3 linked regions of the Homo sapiens genome follow. The protein of the gene in region 2 purifies or fractionates together with the protein of the main gene of each other region. This does not show direct contact. Each region holds a gene or a part of one and is shown on either strand. Other genes may lie near its edges.

Region 1 (3,652 bases), on a different chromosome or scaffold from region 2:
TTGATGATGATAAAGCGAATGCAACAGTGGATGGTCTTGAACAGGTACTTTTTATCAATAACTGAAAACTGTAGGGATCTTACTTGGTGTTTTTATGTAATTGTTGGAAGGATCATTCAGAAAGCAAATGGGTTAATGAACTTTTAAAATGCTGTAGGTGAGGCATGACAGTTTACACACTGTGTTTATCAGTGCTCTTGATGAAATTACACAAGTTAGGAAATGGAAAATGTCCACTTGGTTCATTTGTATCTGTCTGCTTAAACGCTTTCTAGGGATATGTTGTTTGTCCTTCTGAAAAGAGATTCCTTCTGCTCTTTACATTCCTTAAGAAGAACCGAAAGAAGAAGCTTATGGTCTTCTTTTCATCTTGTATGTCTGTGAAATACCACTATGAGTTGCTGAACTACATTGATTTGCCCGTCTTGGCCATTCATGTAAGTGATGATGATGAGCTCATTGAAAACAGGGTATGCTTATTAAATCCTATAGATTGTAGGATTGGAGGTATTGCCCTCTCCTGGAAACATTGTTCTGAGTAGTTTGATCACCACTAGATGATGGATCCTGTGTGGGGGAGCGCTGCTGGGTGTGGAGGGGTATGAGGACTTTCGAAGAGTGCAAGACACCATCCTCCTTGAGGGGCTTGCGGAACAGTTGGGGAAATAGGACATAGGCCAAGGGATGAGCTCGAAATAGGGTAACAGTTCCACAATTTGGGGGTTCTACTGCTAGTCTTCCTCAAGATTCCAGCTCTAATGGATGTTTTTATTTAATTCTAGGGAAAGCAAAAGCAAAATAAGCGTACAACCACATTCTTCCAGTTCTGCAATGCAGATTCGGGAACACTATTGTGTACGGATGTGGCAGCGAGAGGACTAGACATTCCTGAAGTCGACTGGATTGTTCAGTATGACCCTCCGGATGACCCTAAGGTAACTGGCATCTTTGGAATATCTTCAGAATGACTCTGCATTAAAAGTTCACTTATTCTCCCAGTTCCCTGACGGAAACTGCATTCCACATTCAAGGTAAAGATCCCTACTATACAGTGACTGCAGTATTTCTCTGGTATTGAAAAGTACTTAAGGCTTTTCAGGGCTCAAACGGGCTGTGCCAGAGGATTGAAAAGGATCAGTGGGACTTAAGTTATGAAAATGAGATCCTTGGAATGATCTCTTAAGAACAGCAGATGCCTGAAGGAAATAAAATTGCTTAAGGAAGTAGATAAACTTCTGTAGTATATGTGGTAGAATAAGCTTCATTGAGAAGTATTTTCAACAAACACTGGATTAAAGCCGTTTTGATGATGAAGCACACATAATACTCATTTTATTAGATCGCTGTTAATGCAAACATCATGTCCAGCCTTTTTTTTTTTTTTTTTTTTTTTTTTTTGGGCCTCAATCATTGGCCTATTGGGGGTGATGTGCACAGAGCGATTGCTGGCCCAGCTTTGTGGGGGTGTGGTGAAGGTGTGTGTGGCCCAGCACCGTGGGACTACACCATCTCAGTACAGACATGCACATACTCAGGATGCAGATACGCAAATGGGCTCATGTGGAAGTCACTGCGTTAACTCAGATTTTCTTTCTCCACCAAAGGAATATATTCATCGTGTGGGTAGAACAGCCAGAGGCCTAAATGGGAGAGGGCATGCCTTGCTCATTTTGCGCCCAGAAGAATTGGGTTTTCTTCGCTACTTGAAACAATCCAAGGTAAAGATCTGTACTTGGAGAAAGATTTCTCTTGGTGTAGGGATTGTTAGCAAGCAACATTTCTACATGTGTCAGAGGAGTCTCGAGTCTGGCCAGTGCTGTTACAACCATTCTTATGGCAATTAAGCAAGTAAGGTTTTATGTACTTCTAGCCCAAGAAGTGAGCACAGAAGGAACTGCCCACATGGCTCGGCTTTCTAGCTCTGTTACCCAGCAACACCTCTGTGTCCCAGCCTCTCCTTTCCTGTTCCCTCCAGCCCTCTTTGAAACCTTCTCCACTCCTTTGAAGCTCCCTCACACCTAGTCATCTCTGCTTCTGCTCCCCTTCTTTCCTCTTACCTCATGTGAAGCAGTGGGGAATCCTTGTTCGCTCTAGCCTCTGCCTCCTCCCCTGCCCTCTGTCTCCTATTCATCAACTCTTGGCCTACAGTCTCTTCCTTGCGGTTGGCGCTTTACCATCTCAAATTTCTCACTGTAAAAAAGTAACTTCAACCTTAAACCTGTTCTTCTACCCCTGCCTGCAGGAGCTACTGTCTGTTGCCTTTCCTCAGTCAGCCTTACTGGAAAAATGGCTTATATTCTTGCCATTTACCTCCCTCTCAGTCCCTAACCAGCCTAATTTGGCTTTAGCTTTCTACTATCACACCAGAATTGAATCCATCAGGACCCTAAGTGGCCTCTTCATTGCTAGGCCATGTGGGGGATGCATATCAGGCCTTCTCCTGCCTGACATTTACATCCTCATTGGCCTTTCTGGCATAGTCTTGATGATAGGCTTCCTCTACCCTGTAACTGCAGGCAGTTCCCTGAAATTGCTCTACAGCTTTTGCACACTTTGTCCAGAATGCTTGGTTTCAGCTCGCCTCTGTCTTTGCTGGGAAGCCATCGCTGATCTCCTGCCTCCTTGTTCCCACAGCACAGGTGCTCATCAGGTTGACATTTCTTTCTTTCTTTCTTTTTTTATTATTATTACACTTTAAGTTCTAGGGTACATGTGCACCATGTGCAGGTTTGTTACATATGTATTCATGTGCCATGTTGGTGTGCTGCACCCATAAACTCGTCATATACGTTAGGTATATATCCTAATGCTATCCCTTCCCCCTCCCCCCACCCCACGACAGGCCCCGGTGTGTGATATTCACCACCCTGTGTCCAAGTGTTCTCATTGTTCATTTCCCACCTGTGAGTGAGAACATGCGGTGTTTGGTTTTCTGTCCTTGCAATAGTTTGCTCAGAATGATGGTTTCCCGTGTCATCCATGTCCCTACAAAGGACATGAACTCATCCTTTTTTATGGCTGCATAGTATTCCATGGTGTGTATGTGCCACATTTTCTTAATCCAGTCTGTCATTGATGGGCATTTGGGTTGGTTCCAAGTCTTTGTTATTGTGAATAAACATACATGTGCATGTGTCTTTATAGCAGCATGATTTATAATCCTTTGGGTATATACCCAGTAATGGGATGGCCGGGTCAAATGGTATTTCTAGGTCTAGATCCTTGAGGAATCGTCACACTGTCTTCCACAATGGATGAACTAGTTTACAGTCCCACCAACAGTGTAAAAGTGTTCCTGTTTCTCCACATCTCCTCCAGCACCTGTTGTTTCCTGACTTTTTAATGATCGCCATTTTAACTGGTGTGAGATGGTATCTCACTGTGATTTTTATTTGGATTTCTCTGATGGCCAGTGATGATGAGCATATTTTCATGTCTGTTGGCTGCCTAAATGTCTTCTTTTGAGAAGTGTGTGTTCATATCTTTCGCCCACTTTTTGATTGGGTTGTTTGATTTTTTCTTGTAAATTTGTTTAAGTTCTTAGTAGATTCTGGATATTAGTCCTAGCCAAAATTGACAAATGGGATCTAATTAAAGAGCTTCTGCACAGCAAAAGAAACTACCATCAGAGTGAACAGGCAACCTACAGAAT
Region 2 (3,652 bases):
AGACGGAGTCTTGCTCTGTCGCCTGGGCTGGCACGCAGTGGCGCAATCTCGGCTCACTGCAAGCTCTGCCTCCCGGGTTCATATCATTCTCCTGCCTCAGCCTCCTGAGTAGCTGGGACTACAGGTGCCCGCCACCACGCCCGGCTAATTTTTTTTTGTATTTTTAGTAGAGACGGGATTTCACGTGTTAGCCAGGATGGTCTCAATCTCCTGACCTTGTGATCCACCCGCCTTGGCTTCCCAAAGTGCTGGGATTCAGGCGTGAGCCACCGCGCCCAGCCTGAACTATTTAACCCACGTATGCATGTCAATGTTTTTCTCCCCTCCTCATACTGGAACTGAAGCTTACGTACTGGCTACATTTCTGGGAATTTATTATTCAATGCAAGTAAAAATAAGCAGACAAACAACAGATTCTTTCTTTGTTCTGTGTGAAACTCATTCCACTCAACCCAGATTGAATCCTTACTGCACTTCAAATTTTAGCAATTGACAACCAATGTGACCAGCACCCCTTCCTTCAGCTGAGAAAAAATCTCAAGGATCTCACAAAAGCTGAACGTACGCAACACCAAAGTTCTACCAACTCAATCCTAATTCTACGCTGTCCCAAAGTTTGATGGAATTACCACTTAAAACAAGTTTGCCTACCAAAATAAATAATATTACTAATAGCTGTTATCAATTTAGCTCTTATTAGGTGGTGTGCTATGTGCTCACTATGGGCCAAGTGCTTTACAGATGCTTCATCTGTAGCCAATAACCCAAGGAGGTCGGTTATCTATACTTTCTGTTTTTTTTAGACGGAGTTTCGCTCCTGTTGCCCAGGCTGGAGTGCAATGGCACGATCTTGGCTCACTGCAATCTCTGCCTCCCAGGTTCAAGCGATTCTCCTGCCTCAGCCTCTCCTGAGTAGCTGAGATTACAGGTATGCACCACCACGCCTGGCTAATTTTGTATTTTTAGTAGAGACAGGGTTTCTTCTTGTTGGTCAGGTTGGTCTCAAACTCCTGACCTCAGGTGATCCGCCTGCCTGAGCCTCCCAAGTGCTGGGATTACAGGCGTGAGCCACTGTGTCCGACCTATCTATACTTTCAAGGCAAAGAAGTTAAAGTTCATGGAGAAACCCAACTAAGGGCACAGGAAGGGATAGAGCAAGGATTAAAATTCAGGTCTCAACTCCAAAACCTGTGCTTTGATCCACTACACTACTGCACCTCATACTAAACATGAAAAGGTGAAAAGAGAGGTCTTAGAAAGTTCATCATTGCTACATTAAAGTCACTATTTTCTAAGGAAAAACAAAAGACAAATATGTTAGAGAGGGATCTGCATGGAGTTTGCCCAGGAAATTCCATCACCAGGGATATCCTACATCTTACATGAGGCCGGATTCGATCATGGAGAAGAGACATTGGTAACTTGCTTTGCTTCATGACAACTTTGTATGGATCCTTCATAACTGTATCCATTTCCTCTTGAAATTTTTGTAATGATGACTGCTTAATCACACGTGTGTTTCCTGTTTTACAAATAAAGAATGTTGCCACTTAGTTAATATTTGCGCATCCATCTTCCACTGACACGGTGAAAGGCAAGATTTTAAATTACCCTCACTTACCCAAGCACCTGATCCATCCATCCCTTGGAGCTGTTTTCAAACTTAAAAGAGGAAAAAACCAAAAAACTGCCTCTCCCGCACTTGCACACTATGAACTATTCCACAAATCCAGACCCACAAAGGGTTTCAATAGTTTTCCAAGTCCAGTTTCCTAACTAAATGAAACTGAGAAATAAATAGCGTGGAATGGAACTGAGATCTGTCAAATGTCCTACTACCTGCTAGATCTAGCAGAGAAACCTGGAGCCAATCACAGCTGATCAGTCAGTATAGACAGAGAATCTTGAAACACTGAAATTTGAGTCATAGTTAGCCACTTTTAGGGTTATGAGGATTCAAAGGGACTATTAACCAATGAGTCCATGCAAGGGAACAAGATAGAGCCCTGCACCACCACCTGGAAAACATCTTGTGAGGGAGACCCTGAAAAGCATTCAATTAAACAGCATGCTGCGGCATAAATGCAAAACAGCAAGGTGGTAATGACGGTAGCAAGTAATGCTTATATTATACTCACTATTTGCTAGGCGCTATTCTAAGCACTTTATATATATTTACTCTTTTTTTTTTTTTTTTTTTGAGATGGAGTCTCACTCTGTCACCCAGGCTGGAGTGCAGTGGCACAATCTCAGCTCACTGCAACCTCTGCCTCCTGGGCTCAAGGGATTCTCCTGCCCCAGCCTCCCAAGTAGCTGGGATTACAGGTGCCCACCACAACACCTGGCTAATTTTTGTATATTTAGTAGAGATGGGGGTTTCACTGTGTTGGCCAGGCTGGTCTCGAATGCCTGACCTCAAGTGATTCACCAGCCTTGGCCTCCCAAAGTGCTGGGATTACAGGCGTGAGCCACTGCGCCCTGCCTGTATTTACTCATTTGATTACCATGACAGTCTTATGAGATAGGTTTCATCTTATTCTCATGTTAGGGATGAGAAAACTGATGAACAGACAGACTTAATAACTTGCCCACTGGCACATAAATGACAGAACTAGAATTCAAACCCAGGCAGTCTAATCGAGTCACAGTACCCAGCAGCCATGCTAAATGCTTCTCTGCAGAGTTTTGACACCTTTCTGTGTTGCAGTTCTTAGGAAGTATCCCACTGAAAGTATAAGAGACTCAAAGATAGCTGCCACCTGCCCCCAAGGACAGAGGTCAAACACCAAGCAAACACTGGGGTCTGATCATCTAAAGTGCCCATACATTTACCAGTGGCTAAGGGCAAAGTTAAGAGCCCAGACTGAAATGAGACAGGGAGTTTTCCAAGGAAGAAGCTGTGATCACCCTGAGACTGAAGATACTCTATTCACTGTTGGACAGTTCAACAGTGAGACCCTTTAATTGTCACCCAAGTTCAAATAAAAACCCCATTAAGAAGTATTTCAGAGGAACTTCGGGCTAATGCACTTACCCTGAAGGATATATGCACAAAACCTACAAGGCCACCTCTCCAACAGTATCTCTTTAGGAAAGCAGAAAAGATTAAGATGAGCATTCTAAGGTCTGTGAATGCTAGTCATTAAGGATGGTCTTATCTGCTTAAGAGGGTTCAATTACAATTACTAATGGTGAGCGCTCTTCAAAAAGAAGTTATTTATTAAATTGACCACCACTACTTTTCCCAGTAATTCTTCTTATCCCTTTCTCAGATAATCCTTGCCGGTTTCACTCACCAAAAACTCCTGCTGTTTAGACATTTAAACATCCTAGCCGTTTCCACTCAGCATATATTTTGTAGAGCAAAGTAACAGGGGATAATACTCACCAAACCATTTAATATTTGGCTCTACTCTTGCCACTGTGCCAGAAGCCACCGTTGATTGATATTGCAGGGGTTTAATTATTTTACCACGACTGTTCCTAAATTGAGGAAAGAACAGATATTGGTTGACAACAGAAAAATGGCAACAGCGAAGTTTGATTTACAGAATATATTTTCCATCAAAAGGACTTCTTACTTTGGTTTTAAATGATCATGAAATACCAATTCCAGTAAACACAAAGTACTTCTACATTTGAAACAGATTGC
Region 3 (3,652 bases), on a different chromosome or scaffold from region 2:
AAGTGTTTTTTGGCTTTTGAATTTTTTCAGATTTTGGAATAGCTGCACTATACTTACCAGCTGAGCATCCCTAATCTGGAAATCCGAAATCCAAAATGCTCCGAGTATTTCCTCTCAGCATCATGTTGGCACTCAAAAAAGCTTCAGATTTTGGAGGATTTTGGATTTTGGAATTTCAAGTTAGGAATGCTCAACCCATACTTATTGTGTACTAAGCACTATCATGAACATTTTTGCATGGATTAATTAATTAATCCTGCAGCAACCCTACGAAGCTGTATACTACTGTGGCCCCCATTTGACAAGTAAGGACCTCTAAGTTCATCGGTTAAATCTGGTAGGGGCCAAAGCCAAGATATGCACCAGGCAGTCCTGCTCTAGCGCCCATGCTCTCCACACTACCCTATGCAGAGTCCTTCCCTCTGCTTGGGAAGAGCTAGCCTCCTCCCTCACCCAGTCCAGCTTGTCAGAAACATCAATGGCAACTACAACTCCCACTTCTGATGAGCCTATCTGATTTTGACAACACTCTCCAGTTACACTAGGTGCAGTTTCTCATTTGCAAACTCATTCTACCTTTAATCTGCCTACAAATTGACACAAACCGGAGAGCAGCCTCGACAACCTCACAGTCTGCAGCAATAGGAACATTCTGGTTTCGAGACCAGCCTCCTTCATTTTGAACAGCAGACATGTTCAGGAGCTAGGGAACCCCTCCAGGCCTAACGAAAAATTTAACCTGAGAAAGCTTATTGCAAAAGAGAAAGAAAAGCCCCAGCCCCGGGCTGGTGGGCCAGTGTACCGTCAGCAGTGGCACTGGCCTGTGGGTGCCTCCTCGCCCTGATGGTGCTGCCTCCCCTGCAGCCTGTGCTCTCTACATTTGTGCCTCCTGGCCCATCCCAGCAATGGGACAGAACAGAACAGGGGTGAGGAGTGGCCTCATTACTAAACAATCAAGTTGCCAAAAGCCCATCTACTTCTTTGTGAAGAAACTACAGAAGCCAGCAGCCAGTATTTACTACTAGAAATTCAGCATATTTGGGCCAGGCATGATGGCTCATTCTTGTAATCCCAGCACTTTGGGAGGCTGAGGCAGGAGGATCATGAGGTCAGGAGTTCAAGACCAGCCTGTCCAATGTGGTGAAACCCCACCTCTACTAAAGATACAAAAAATTAGCTGGGCATGGTGGCACATGCCTGTAATCCCAGCTACTCGGGAGACTGAGGCAGAAGAATTGCTTGAACCAGGAGGCAGAGGTTGCAGTGAGCCGAGATCGTGCCATTGCACTCCAGCCTGGGTGACAGGGTGAGACCCCGTCTCAAAACAAAAAAAAACAAACAAAAAAAAACGGCCGGGCGCGGTGGCTCACACCTGTAATCCCAGCACTTTGGGAGGCCGAGGCAGGTGGATCACCAGGTCAGGAGATGGAGACCATCCTGGCTAACAGGGCTAACAAAAAATTAGCCGGGCGTGGTGGCGGGCGCCTGTAGTCCCAGCTATTCGGGAGGCTGAGGCAGGAGAATGGCATGAACCCAGGAGGCGGAGCTTGCAGTGAGCTGAGATCGCGCCACTGCACTCCAGCCTGGGCGACAGAGCCAGACTCTGTCTCAAAAAAAAAAAAAAAAAAAAAAAAGAAACTCAGCATATTTGATGCAGGTCAAAAATACACAACATTTACGGAGCAGAACATTTCCACCCCACAAAGTCTCCTTAGGAGTGAGTCTGTCATTTGATTTTCTGTGTTCCACCTGCACATCTAACTATGCCCTTCTCTGTCAGACAGGCTGTTCTGACGGGCCCAGGAACTACAGAGCTTAGTCATGGCTGCACCCAGCACACCCCAAGCATGTACAATAGAAACATTTGGTCACTTGAGGGTAGGAGGTTCAGAGACTCTGTCCTTAGAGACTGTGCTTAAAATACATTTATGTCCAATTTAACTTATTCATTCAATGAGTAGGACCACTCAGGCCATTTGCCCTAGCTAGCTCTGTCCCCAAATGCATTTCATAGGTGCTACAGGGTCTCACATATTTATTCTACCAGTACAATTTCCATAAAATGAGCACTGGTCATTATCGCTGAGTAAGAAGCAAGCCCAGGCGCTTACCATGTAGTAGTTTTCCAGGCGGGAGGGGGTCTTCTGGGCACTGCTGGCTGCCACGCCCTTCTCCTTCACTGAGACCCGGACAGGGTTCCGGAGGCCCGCTCTCACCAGGTTCTCCACTTCCTGCGTCTGAGTGGCAGAGAAAAGGCCTGTTCTCCTCTGCTTTGGCAAAAACTCCAGAATGGTGTTGATGCTGATAAAAAGAGGGCTCACACTTAACCGCTCACTTGCCAGCAGAATCAACACACAGTGCTTCACGATACTAAACAGGTATTCAAAAAGACTGAAAGTGAAGCCATCAAAATATTTATAGCACATACACTGGGAGGTGAGATTATAGGTGATTCTTTGTTTCTTCTTTATACTTTCATTTTTCCAAGGTTCCTCAAATTTTAGCATACAATTATAATGATATGTGAATTATATCCCATAAAGCTGTTTATTAAAAAACAACAAAACTGCCAGGTGTGATGGCTCATGCTTGTAATCCCAGCACTTCGGGAGACTGGGATGGGAAGATCTCTTGAGCCCAGGAGTTTGAGACCAACCTGGGCAACATAATGGGATCTTGTCTCTGCCAAAAATTAAAAAAAAAAAGCATGATGGCATGTGCCTGTAGTCCCAGATGACTCAGGAGGCTGAGGTGGGAGGATCACTTAAGCCCAGGAAGTAAAGGTCGCAATGACCCGAAATCATGCCACTGCATTCTAGCCTGGATGACAGAGTGAGACCCTGTCTCAAAAAAAAAAAAAAAAAAAAAACTTGAAGGAAAGTGCATTTTAAGATCAAAGATAGAACTGGAATAAAATCACGTGGTAGAATTTGAAAGCTCAAACTACTTAATGATTTGAAATTAAAATGTGGTTAATAAAAATACTTAGGCCAGGCATGGTGGCTGGCACCTGTAATCCTAGCACTTTGGGTACCCTAGGTAGGAGGATCACTTAAGTCCAGGAGTTTGAGAACAGACTGGGCAACATGGCAAAACCTCATCTGCAAAAAATAAAAAAACCATCCAGGCATGGTGGTGTGCACCTGTAATCCCAGCTACCCGGGAGGCTGATGCAGGAGGATCATCTGAGCCCGAGAGGTTGAGGCTGCAGTGAACATAATCACACCACTGCACTCCAGCCTGGGTGACAGCACAAGACCCTGTCTCTAATAAACAAATAAATAAAAAATAAATAAAAATGAAAATAAAAAATAAAAATACCTAGTCATGAAACAGTAAACTCCATTTTGCTCCCCTTTTGTATTAGTATCATCTGCCCACTCAAGCCAGTGAAGTCCAAAGTCCAGTACCTTGCCTCAAACCCCATGTCCAGAAGTCTGTCTGCCTCATCCAACACCAGGACATCCAGGGATCGCACACAGCTGGCCAGATCCAAGCCTTCGGCCTTCCTCCGGAACATGTCCTCCAAGCGGCCTGGAGTGGCCACAATGATGTTCCCACTTTGGAAAGAAAGTTAACATTTACCAAACTCTCTGGATCTTGGGAATGTGGTTGATGATTACCAAAATACCAAGTTTTATATCCCCCCAAA

Evidence for each region.
Region 1: the proteins of GNL2 (region 2) and DDX18 purify together in Homo sapiens (affinity purification with mass spectrometry; 2 studies listed by BioGRID and IntAct, with this or other methods). This does not show direct contact.
Region 3: the proteins of GNL2 (region 2) and DDX55 purify together in Homo sapiens (co-immunoprecipitation; 2 studies listed by BioGRID and IntAct, with this or other methods). This does not show direct contact.

Annotation. Positions count from the first base shown.
Region 1 is NC_000002.12:117,824,665-117,828,316, forward strand, and holds part of DDX18 (ATP-dependent RNA helicase DDX18), read left to right. Parts: coding exon 1-44; intron 45-275; coding exon 276-437; intron 438-782; coding exon 783-935; intron 936-1,604; coding exon 1,605-1,718; intron 1,719-3,652. UniProt on the Homo sapiens protein: ATP-dependent RNA helicase that plays a role in the regulation of R-loop homeostasis in both endogenous R-loop-prone regions and at sites of DNA damage.
Region 2 is NC_000001.11:37,589,324-37,592,975, forward strand, and holds part of GNL2 (nucleolar GTP-binding protein 2), read right to left. Parts: intron 3,484-3,652; coding exon 3,389-3,483; intron 1,523-3,388; coding exon 1,383-1,522; intron 1-1,382. UniProt on the Homo sapiens protein: GTPase that associates with pre-60S ribosomal subunits in the nucleolus and is required for their nuclear export and maturation.
Region 3 is NC_000012.12:123,608,588-123,612,239, reverse strand, and holds part of DDX55 (ATP-dependent RNA helicase DDX55), read right to left. Parts: intron 3,561-3,652; coding exon 3,411-3,560; intron 2,302-3,410; coding exon 2,112-2,301; intron 1-2,111. UniProt on the Homo sapiens protein: Probable ATP-binding RNA helicase. Has ATPase activity and is involved in the maturation of precursor large subunit rRNAs.